2 separate regions of the Homo sapiens genome follow, and region 1 is linked to region 2. Evidence: fine-mapped expression QTL. A gene starts in region 2. The other region holds a variant in brackets. All regions are shown on one strand. Distances are from middle to middle. Region 1 overlaps TCTN2 (tectonic family member 2). Region 2 holds the start of EIF2B1 (eukaryotic translation initiation factor 2B subunit alpha).

The links.
Region 1: its variant is fine-mapped to the expression of EIF2B1 in prefrontal cortex (GTEx, PIP above 0.99).

What each region holds. Positions count from the first base shown.
Region 1 is chr12:123,706,237-123,711,611 of GRCh38, forward strand. TCTN2 (tectonic family member 2) reads left to right here. Exons shown (of 18, transcript NM_024809.5): 16 at 490-615; 17 at 749-837; 18 at 1,368-2,163. The coding sequence ends at 1,477. Among named protein-coding and RNA genes, the nearest start is that of ATP6V0A2, 3.4 kb to the right of the region's middle. The variant A/G (reference allele first, on the strand shown) is at 2,242.
Region 2 is chr12:123,630,867-123,636,241 of GRCh38, forward strand. It overlaps EIF2B1 (eukaryotic translation initiation factor 2B subunit alpha), which reads right to left and starts at 2,820. Exons shown (of 9, transcript NM_001414.4): 1 at 2,679-2,820; 2 at 1,479-1,580. The coding sequence starts at 2,691. GTF2H3 (general transcription factor IIH subunit 3) reads left to right here and starts at 2,963. Exons shown (of 13, transcript NM_001516.5): 1 at 2,963-3,006. The coding sequence starts at 2,994. RefSeq lists an enhancer at 2,847-3,036.

The DNA of each region.
Region 1 (5,375 bases), 75 kb after region 2:
AGTGGTGGCTCTGCAAGGGAAAATGGGAGTGCAGTTACCACCTCCGCAGTACTCTTCTGAGGATAACATGAGATGGTGTGTTGCAAGCAAGTTATCTCTGTGCCTCGAACGTGGAAAGCCCTCAATAAGTGGCTAGCTGCTGCTTTTATTATTATATTGTTTGAGAAAAACAGGTGATGAACAAAGGTACCTTTGATAGCACCTGTATACAATGCACTGGCTGGAGAGGAGTGAGACTGACAACAAGACTGGCAGATGTTGCTGGGCGACAGGCCCATGAGGGGTTATTAGGAGTTTCTCTTCTCTTTGGATCTGTCTGTGGAAATGGTCAAAGACCATGGACAAATACTGAGAAAAAACAGCCCAGGTAGAATGCGAAACTTCTTAGGAGAACCTCAGGTTATATTGTGATTGCATCCGTTACCTGCTGTTCTTGGTGGAATAGAACTGAATGGTGGCTATGCTGACCATGTGATCTTTCCCTCCTAGGTTCTCCTCAGTGAACTGGCAGTACCAGTGTGGGCTTACCTGTGAGCACAAGGCCGACCTTCTCCCTATCAGTGCATCCGTCCAGTTTATTAAAATTCCTGCACAGTTACCCCACCCCCTGACAAGGTACTCCAGTTGCTCACCTAGTTGACATTAGGAAGCAGAAAAATATATATTTGAAAATTGGAAGTTTATTCCTTTAATCAAGTTCTGATACTTCTCACTTGTAGTTTTTGTAACCCTCTAAAATGTTTTCTAGATTCCAGATCAATTATACAGAGTATGACTGCAACAGAAATGAGGTGTGTTGGCCGCAGCTTCTATATCCATGGACTCAGTATTATCAAGGTAGGGTGAAACAGATTTCTATGACCAATTATGTTATGTCAATTTAAAAAAATTTTTTAAATGATGTCTAAATGTTACAGAAAGCATAAAACATATAGAAACTTAAAAAAAAGTACGGATAATATTGCCACTTGGAAGTGATCACCATTACTGTTTTGGCTTAGTTTATTTCTACCTACACTGTTTTTTTTTTTAGAGAGTCTTGCTCTGACACCCTGGCTGGAGTGCAGTGGCACAATCTCAGCTCACTGCAACCATTGCCTCCTGGGTTCAGACAACTCTCGTGCCTCAGCCTTTGGAGTAGCTGGGATTACAGCACCAATATGCCTGGCTATTTTTGTATTTTTAGTAGAGACGGGGTTTCACTGTGCTGGCCAGGCTGGTCTCGAACTGGCCTCAAGTGATCCGCCCTCCTTGGCCTCCCAAAGTGTTAGGATTACAGGAGTGAGCCACCACACCCAGCCTATACCTACACTGTTATCAAAAGAGTTAAGAAATACTGCTGTTGAATTTTGTCCATTGTTTTTCAGGGGAGCTGCATTCTCAGTGTGTTGCTAAGGGCTTACTGTTGCTGTTGTTCCTCACATTGGCCTTGTTCCTCAGCAACCCCTGGACCAGAATATGCAAAGCCTATAGTTAGACAACCACCTGGCTTTTATTTTTTTGAGATGGAGTTTTGCTCTTGTTGCCCAGGCTGAAGTGATCTCGGCTCACCACAACCTCCTCCTCTTGGGTTCAAGCGATTCTCCTGCCTCAGCCTCCGGAGAACTGGGATTACAGGCATGCACCACCACGCCCGGCTAATTTTGTATTTTTAGTAGAGACAGGGTTCCACCGTATTGGCCAGGCTGCTCTCGAACTCCTGACCTCATGATCCGCCCATCTTGGCCTCCCAAAGTGCTGAGATTACAGGCATGAGCCACCGCACCCGGCCTTTTTTTTTTTTTTTTTTTTTTTGAGGCGGGGTCTCTGTCACCCAGGCTGGAGTGCAGTGCACAATCTCGGCTCACTGCAATCTCTGCCTCCCAAGCAATCCTCCCACCTCAGCCTCTGGTGTAGCTGGGACCACAGATGCTCCACCATGCCTGGCTGTATTTTTGGTAAAGACGGGGTTTCGCCTTGTTGCCCAGGGTGGTCTGTAACTCCTGAGCTCAGATGATCTGCCCACCTCGGCCTCCCAAAGTGCTGGGATCACAGACGTGAGCCACTGCGTCCGGTCCATCTGACTTCTCAAAGACTTTAGACCTTGACTTCAGTGATTTGTTGTAGTCTTGTATGCTTCTCTATAAAATTTTAATAAATGAAATGTCTTATTTTTGTAGAAAATTTTTATTAAGTGCCCTGTGACTTTAATTCATATATGTAGCTATCCAATGCAGAATGAATATTCTCATCGCTGGCCTG[A/G]ACTGAGTAAAATGCATGAGAAGAACTCAAAAATGTTAGAAATTTTAGCTTATCACAAATTAGTTAAAGTCATAGGAGTTTTATTTATACCAGAGAGAATCAGTCTTTTCTTTAGTTTTTAATACATTCGTGTTGATTGATGTTTCCCATATTCCGTAGAAAGGATTAAGAAATCCTTAAAAATGCATGTAATACAAAAACACAAAATCACTGATGGGGAAAGATATGGGGGCTGCGGGAGGAAAATAATAAGAGAAAAGTAAAACAAAACCAGGGGCACATGTAAGCCCTAAAATACATGCCAGAGGTTGCCTTTAGCAGAAGCAGGCCCCTAATTCATTATTTATTTATTTGTTTTTTGGAGACAGGTTCTCCCTCTGTTGCCCAGGCTGGAGTGCAGTGGCACGATTATAGCTCACTGTAAACTCAGACACCTGGGATCAAGCGATTCTCCCCCAAGTAGCTGGGACTACAGGTGGCACACAGCTACCACGCCTGGCTATTTTTTTTTTTTTTTTTTTTTTTTTTTTTTTTAGTAGATGGGGGTCTCGCTATGTTGCCCAGCCTGGTCTCAAACTCCTGGCTTTAGCGATCCTACCACCTAAGCCTCCCAAAGTGCTGGGATTACCAGCAGGAGCCACTATGCCCAACCAAGACCCCAGTTTACAAAAACCCAAGTATGATTAGCTATAGGAATTATGAAATCTATTCATTAATACAGGAATTATGAAATCTATTCATTAAAAATTAACTGGTTATCAATGAAGGACAGTTTTTCCTAGCTGAGTCTTGACAAATTTCTCCCATGGGCCGTCACATGGGAACAGTCAACCCCACTCAGTGGGGAGAATGGATTTTTTTTTTTTTTTTTTTTTTGAGACTCGGTCTTACTCTGTTACCCAGGCTGGAGAGCTGGAGAGCAGTGGCACAATTACGGCTCACTGCAGCCTCGACCTCCTGAGCTCAAGTGATCCTCCCACCTTAGCCTCCCAAGTAGCTGGGACCACAGGCTTGTACCTGGCTAGTTTTTGTATTTTTTTTTTTTGTAGAGAAGGGGGTCTCCCTATGTTACCCAGGCTGGTCTCGAACTCTTAGGCTCAAGTGATCTACCTGCCTTAGCCTCCCAAAGTGCTGGGATTATAGGTATGAGCTGCTGTGCCCAGCCCTGGAATAGATGTTTTTAGCCACGGTCCTACAGTGGCCACATGGCACATCACCTGTAAGTTTTCTTTGTGTGCCAGGTAACTTAGTTGTTTCAGATGGATTTTCTATGTTATTTAAGCCTAATTTTGAAAAATAATTATTTTCCCTTTTATACTTTTTGATCGAATTCCTAGTGCCTGCTGATACCCAGCACCACATAAAATGTGCTGTTTCATCTTCGCTGCAGAGTTCCTGCCCAGGGGCAATTTCAAATTTTCCTCCAGTCTTAAGTCCATTTTCTTTTTTCTTTTTTTTTTTGAGACGGAGTCTTGCTCTATTGCCCAGGCTGGAGAGCAGTGGCGTGATCTTTGCTCACTGCAAGCTCCGCCTCCCGAGTTCACGCCATTCTCCTGCCTCAGCCTCCTGAGTAGCTGGGACTACAGGCACCCACCACCATGCCCAGCTAATTTTTCGTATTTTTAGTAGAGACGGAGTTTCACTGTGTTAGCCAGGATGGTCTCGATCTCCTGACCTCGTGATCCACCCGCCTCGGCCTCCCAAAGTGCTGGGATTACAGGCATGAGCCACTGCGCCCGGCCTGAGTCCACTTTCAAATAGGGGGATGAGCTAGTCACTGCAGAGGTCCTAAGTTTCTGCATGATGGAAATACCGTGAATTTCAGCATCTGTACTGTGGTGGTGTTGGGCCTTCACCCGACCCCTCTAGGGCTGACTCAGGAATCTGGGTCAGTACTGGACTGACGGAGCTGGGGTCTGAGTCAATTATTGTCTGAACTTCAGCCTTTGAATTCACCTTCACAGTTCTTACTGTATCTTTTTGTTGTTGTTGTTTCTTTTGAAACAGAGTGTCACTCTGTTGCCCAGGCTAGAGTCCAGGGATGCCATTTCAGCTCACTGCAAGCTCCACCTCCCAGGTTCAAGCGATTCTCTTGCCTCAGCCTCCCGAGTAGCTGGGACTACAGGTGCCCACCACCACGCCTAGCTAATTTTTATATTTTTTTAGTAGAGACGGGGTTTTGCCATGTTGGCCAGGCTGGTCTCAAACTCCTGACCTCAAGTGATCCACCTGCCTCAGCCTCCCAAAGTGCAGGGATTACAGGAGTGAGCCAGGGCACCCAGCCTAGTGTAACTAGCTTTGGATTTCAGGTATTTATGGAAAATAAATTTAAAACTTCCAAATGACAGGTAATTTAGCTTGATTTTGTGGGCTTTGTGAGGACGCCTTTTGTACTTAAAAGAAGGAAAAAACTCAGTTTGGCAGAATGGGGTCTGGAGTGTCTATGGTTTTAACTTTTTTAAGTTTATACATTTATGTATGCATTCATGAACTATTTATTGAGTGGCTACTATGTGCTGGGGCTTGGAGATACCACAGTGGCAGAAACAATGTCCCCACCTTGGTGGAGCTTCCATTCTAGCAGGGAAGACTGGCACTAACACACAGACAAGATAATTTCAGATGGTGGCAGGTGCAGTGAAGGAAATAGAACAAGGATGTGACTCCAGGGACAGTCTCAAGGAAGGGGATATGTAAGCAGAGACTCGACTGGGACAGCGGTGAGGTTGCGGCCTGGGGCGGGGGGCCACTGCTTCCCGGTCAGTGTGGGGAACACACACTGGGTGCTGTGTGATTCCATCGACAGGACAAGCCTGGAGGTGGCAAATTTAGCGAGACAAAATTGTCCTGTGGTGGCCAGGCCGGGCGGGAAGGGGAGACTGCAACTGAGCAGGAGGAGTCTTGCGAGGTCGGTGGGAAATGTTTGAAAACTGGATTGGGATGCTGGCTGCACACTCCAACTTCACGAAGAAGCCTAGGATCCCTCCGGGCGGCGGATCACGCCTGTAATCCTAGCGCTTTGGGAGGCCAAGGCGGGAGGATTGCTTGAGTTCAGGAGTTCGAGACCAGCCTGGCCAACATGATGAAACCCCTTCTCTATAAACATTTTAAAAACAAATTAGCCGGGTGTGATG
Region 2 (5,375 bases):
TGGTATGGGTGAGGCTAAGGTTGTTTGGATGTTATTTTAAGAACAATGGGAAGACACTGGAGGTTGCCTTAAAGACATGTGTCTCTAGGCAAGCCCTTCAGATTAAAGGCTGCATTATTATTTTGCTTATACAAGATTTCATGCTATACCCAGATGCTTACATTTAGGGTGCTGAATTAGGGGATCACAATAAATAATACTAATACCAGAATTTATTCTGGAATATTCCCTGTAGCATCTGTACAGAATCTGGCACAAGGTGGAGGCCTAATAAACACTTATAAAGCTGAACTGCTACTGAAATTTACGCATCATGGTTAACACAATATAACATAGTCACTCTCGATTCAAAGTCTGTTTCACTTATGAAAGGGATCCTTTTCATGACAACGTAAGAGCTCTCTCCAGATTGAAAGGTCTGAAATGAAGGCAGAAGCTGAGCTTGGAGCTGTATTACTACTTTATGCAGGCAAACATGCATCTCTCACTTTCTACATTTCTAAGAGTCATTAGAAGACTTTCCTGGCCGAACATGGTGGCTCACGCCTGTAATCTCAGCACTTTGGGAGGGCGAGGCGGACGGATCACCTGAGGCTAGGAGTTTAAGACCACTGTGGCCAACATGGTGAAACCCTGTCTCTACTAAAAATAAAAAAATTTGGCCGGGCCCGGTGGCTCACGCCTGCAATCCCAGCACTTTGGGAGGCCGACATGGGCGGATCACGAGGTCAGGAGATCGAGACCATTCTGGCTAACAAAGTGAAACCCCGTCTCTACTAAAAATACAAAAAATTAGCTAGGCATGGTGGCGGGCGCCTGTAGTCCCAGCTACCTGGAGGCTGAGGCAGGAGAATGGCATGAACCTGGGAAGCGGAGCCTGCAGTGAGCCAAGATGGCACCACTGCACTCCAGCCCGGGTGACAGAGCGAGACTCCGTCTCAAAAAAAAAAAAAAAAATTTTGCCAGGCGTGGTGGTGCATGCCTGTAATCCCAGCTACTCAGAAGGCTGAGGCAGGAGAATCGCTTGAACTTGAGAGGCAGAGGTTGCAGTGAGCCGAGATTGTGCCATTGCACTCCAGCCTGGGAGACAAGAGCAAAACTCTGTCTCAAAAAAAACAAACGGCCGGGCACAGTGGCTCACACCTGTAATCCTAGCACTTTGGGAGGCCAAAGCGGGCAGATTGCCTAAGCTCAGGAGTTCGAGACCAGCCTGGGTAACATGGTGAAACCCTGTCTCTAAAATACAAAAAAATTAGCCGGACAAGGTGGTGCACACCTATAATCCCAGCTACTCAGGAGGCCAAGGCAGGAGAATTGCTTGAACCCAGGAGGCGGAGGTTGCAGTGAGCCAAGATCTCGCCACTGCACTCCAGCCTGGGTGACAGAGTGAGGCTCCGTCTCTTTAAAAAAAAAAAAAAAGAAAAGAAAAAAAAGACTATCCTAAGTCCCAGAGTGTTAACAGATGACTCTCTATATACCTTTATCTCTCTTCAAGAACTCCAGCAACGTCCGGATGGCAGCCACTGCTGAGGCCATGTCAGGATCTTCTTTCATCTGAGACTTAAAGTATTCAATTAACTCTGGAAAAAGGGAAAAAAGTGATTCACCTAATTCATTTAGCAGCCTATAAGGCAAGAGAGCTTGTTAATGACTGTTGACTTTAAGAAGCAAACAATTTAAAAAATACTTTCTTTTTAGGGTATTTGGTTTCAGGGATGCAATAAATGTTGATGGGAATAGAGAAAATACCACTTTGCTGTTTGCAAGAGCTCTTTTTTATTTTGAAAAAGCTACTGGTGGCCGGGCGCGGTGGCTCACGCCTGTAATCCCAGCACTTTGGGAGTCCGAGGCGGGCGGATCACGAGGTCAGGAGATCGAGACCATCCCGGCTAAAACGGTGAAACCCCGTCTCTACTAAAAATACAAAAAATTAGCCGGGCGTAGTGGCGGGCGCCTGTAGTCCCAGCTACTTGGGAGGCTGAGGCAGGAGAATGGCGTGAACCCGGGAGGCGGAGCTTGCAGTGAGCCGAGACTGCGCCACTGCACTCCAGCCTGGGTGACAGAGCGAGACTCCGTCTCAAAAAAAAAAAAAAAAAAGCTACTGGTGTGCAAGGCCTAAAAATTAAGCCCGAGTAAATGATGATGAAAAGTCATTCTCTCTTCAGCCTCTTTGGTCCTAAAATCTGAGAGGATCCCAGAGTCAACCATCTTGCCAATTTCTCCTGCACCCCTCCAGACAGTCTATGCTAATACATGTCTATTCACATACACATATATGTTACAAATATTATACATGGAGTTCCACCCACTCCCCTTTATTTCTTTACATGAAAAGTGTATTAGTTTGCCCTTGTTTTTCACTTAATAACCATACTAGATGAGCACATCAAATATGCCTTATTCATTCTAATTTTAATGACAGATCCAACAAGGCAGGAAGGAGACTGGCACTGGGAAGGAGCGTATGTGTGGGAGGGATGCCTGCAGATACTGCCAGGGCGCATCCCTGAAAACAAGAGCAGCGCGAGGGATTTAGTTGTGACTCTGGAAACACAACCAGCGGAGCAGCCTGAAATTCAAAAGAAATCTCTTCGGGAGCTCAGCCTGGATGTGAGAGGTTGGGGGGACCCCTGAACGGCGCTGCTGTAGCCTAGCAGCCCTGGCCTGTCTTGATTTACCCTTGTCGTCCATGGCGTCCTCCTGCTGCGGAGCCCCAGGGGACCCGAGCCGCCCGCGCTGTCTCGAACGGGTCCGCCGGCCGCGCCGCCTGCGAGCCAGTCTGACAGCGCGCTGCACACCTCCGCACCCCACTTCCGGCGCACTTCCGTACCCCTCTTCCGGCGCACTCCCCGCACTCCACTTCCGCAGATTAGGGGGCTGGCACGAGTCACAGCACCTCGTGCGTCACTTGGCGGCGCCGGACGTTGGGCTGCGCAGGATTTGAGACGCTCCCCTGACCACCACTTGCTCTGCGCTGAGGTGCTGGGACAGCCATGGTTTCAGACGGTGAGGACCCTGCAGGGCGGGACTTCGACTCCGGGGCTCGGCTGTCTCGGTCCGGCTACGACTGGCCAGATGGAATGTGTCTTTTGGGCTGGATAGAATCCGTTTGGTCTTTAGAGGAGTAGCCAAGGCATTCAGTCATTCATTCAGTAAATAGTTTTGGATCGCCTCCTGTGTACAGGCATTATTTTCTGGATTTTAGCAGAGATCGTGACAGACAGGGGCCTTAGTGGAGGTTACAGTCTACTGGGTGAAACAGATGACAATAAATAAAAATAATTTCGGCCGGGTCGCACCCCGGTGGATTAGGCCTGTAATCCCAGCACTTTGGGAGGCCGAGGAGGGAGAATCGCTTGAAGCCGGGAGTTCGAGACCTGCCTGGGCAACACAGCCAGACCCCATCTCTACAAAAAAAATGAAATATTAGCCGGGCGTGGTAGCGCGTGTCTGTGGTCCCAGCTACGCGGGAGGCTGAGGCGGGAGAATCACTTGAGCCCAGGAATTCGAGGCTTCAGTGAGCTATTATGGCAGTACTGCACCCAGCATGGCCGACAGGGCATGACCTCGTCAATAAAAAATTAAAAAATAAATTATTTTTCAAAGGATGAAAAGAGCTATGAAGATGATGTAACAGTACGGTCCTAGTTACAATAGTACATTGTGACTAGGATTGAGGAGGAGCTGTTTTAGATAGGGGCCTAGGAAAAGTGCAGGATATTGAAACCGACTTGAATGATTATGTGAAGTTCTGGGGGAAGTGCACTTTAAGTGCATGGGCCCTGTGGCAGATTGAGCCACCAAGTTACACTGAGAAGGGAGAAATGGAGAGCTTGCGGGTAGAGGATGGTGGGGAGACTCATTCATACATTAAACTACCACATACAGAGTCAGATGTCTTGAAGATTTAAAAGGAGGCTAGAGGGATGAGATCAGAGAACCAGCCAGTTTCAGGTCATGCAGGGCCTTATTGGCCGTGATAGAGAAGTTGGCCTTTATTTTTAGGTGCAATACAAAGACATTGTAGAGTTTTAAGCCAGAAAGTGTTATGATCTGGTTTGCAATTTTAAAAGATCACTGTGGCTGTTGTGTGGAAAATGGACTGTGGGGAGCAAGAATAGAGATAGGGGAGTCCTTTCAGGAACTGTAATAATTGTCCATCCTCTCTTAATTGATGTGAAACCATACCACAACCCTGTGAGGGAGGCAGGCCTGGCATTGCTCCTGTCTACAAATGAGGTAGCGAACTAAAGAAGGAAATTCACAGGGTCATTGCATGTGTATAGATGCACACCTTTCTTTACAGGCAACGCTTTTTCTGTCTGGCAGACACAGTTGTATTAAGTGCTTCTGTCCTAGGTGCTTTGTTGTGTGATTTACACATTTTTTTGTTTTGTTTTTCTATTAAAAAAGAAAAAAAGTGGCTGGGCACAGTGGCTCACGCCTGTAATCCCAGCATTTTGGAAGGCCAAGGTGGGTGGATCACTTGAGGTCGGGAGTTCGAGACCAGCCTGGCCAACATGGTGAAACCCCGTCTCTGCTCAAAATACAAAAAAATTAACCGGACAAGGTGGCGCACACCTATAATCCCAGCTACTCAGGAGGCTGAGGCAGGAAAATTGCTTGAACCCAGGAGGCAGAGGTTGCAGTGAGCCAAGATCGTGCCACTGCACTCCAGCTTGGGCGACAGAGCAAGTCTCCGTCGCAAAAAAAAAAAAAAAAAAAAGGTAGAGATAAGGTCTCACTGTTTTGCCCAGGCTGGTCTCAAACTCCTGGGCTGAAGCAATCTTCCTGCCTCGACCTCCCAAAGTGTTGGGATTACAGGCGTGAGCCACTACACCAGTTCTGATTTACACACATTATTTTATCCTAGGATTAGCAAATTCCATCATTTTTTAAGAAGTCCACAGTCTTAAGTGGGCAGGACTGGGACGAGAGATCAGAAGCACAACTAACTGTAAAATAAAATAGTAAGTGCTAAGTGTCATTAGAAGAGAGAGCTGTGGGTTGTCAGAGGTGGGCAGTGGGGCAGTGAAGAGCCACAGTCTTTATAGTCAAGCAGATCTGTCTTTAGAACAGGGCTTTGGCCTTGCCACTTGTTAGCAGGCCATATGTGACTTAGGACAAGTTACTTTCATTTGCAGAATACGAATACCATATATCATATTTCAGCTAATCTAAGATAATATTGATTATGAGATGTGCCCTTATTTAATATACCATTAAGAAAGAAAAAATGCTGCTAATCTTAATGATAAAGATACCATCCAGATGTCAACAACTATTCAATGTAAAAAACAAGGGGTGGGGGTCATCTTATAATTGATGAAAAATGGCAGGAAAATGTCCTTTGCTGGGTGGTTGTCAGGGTGGAA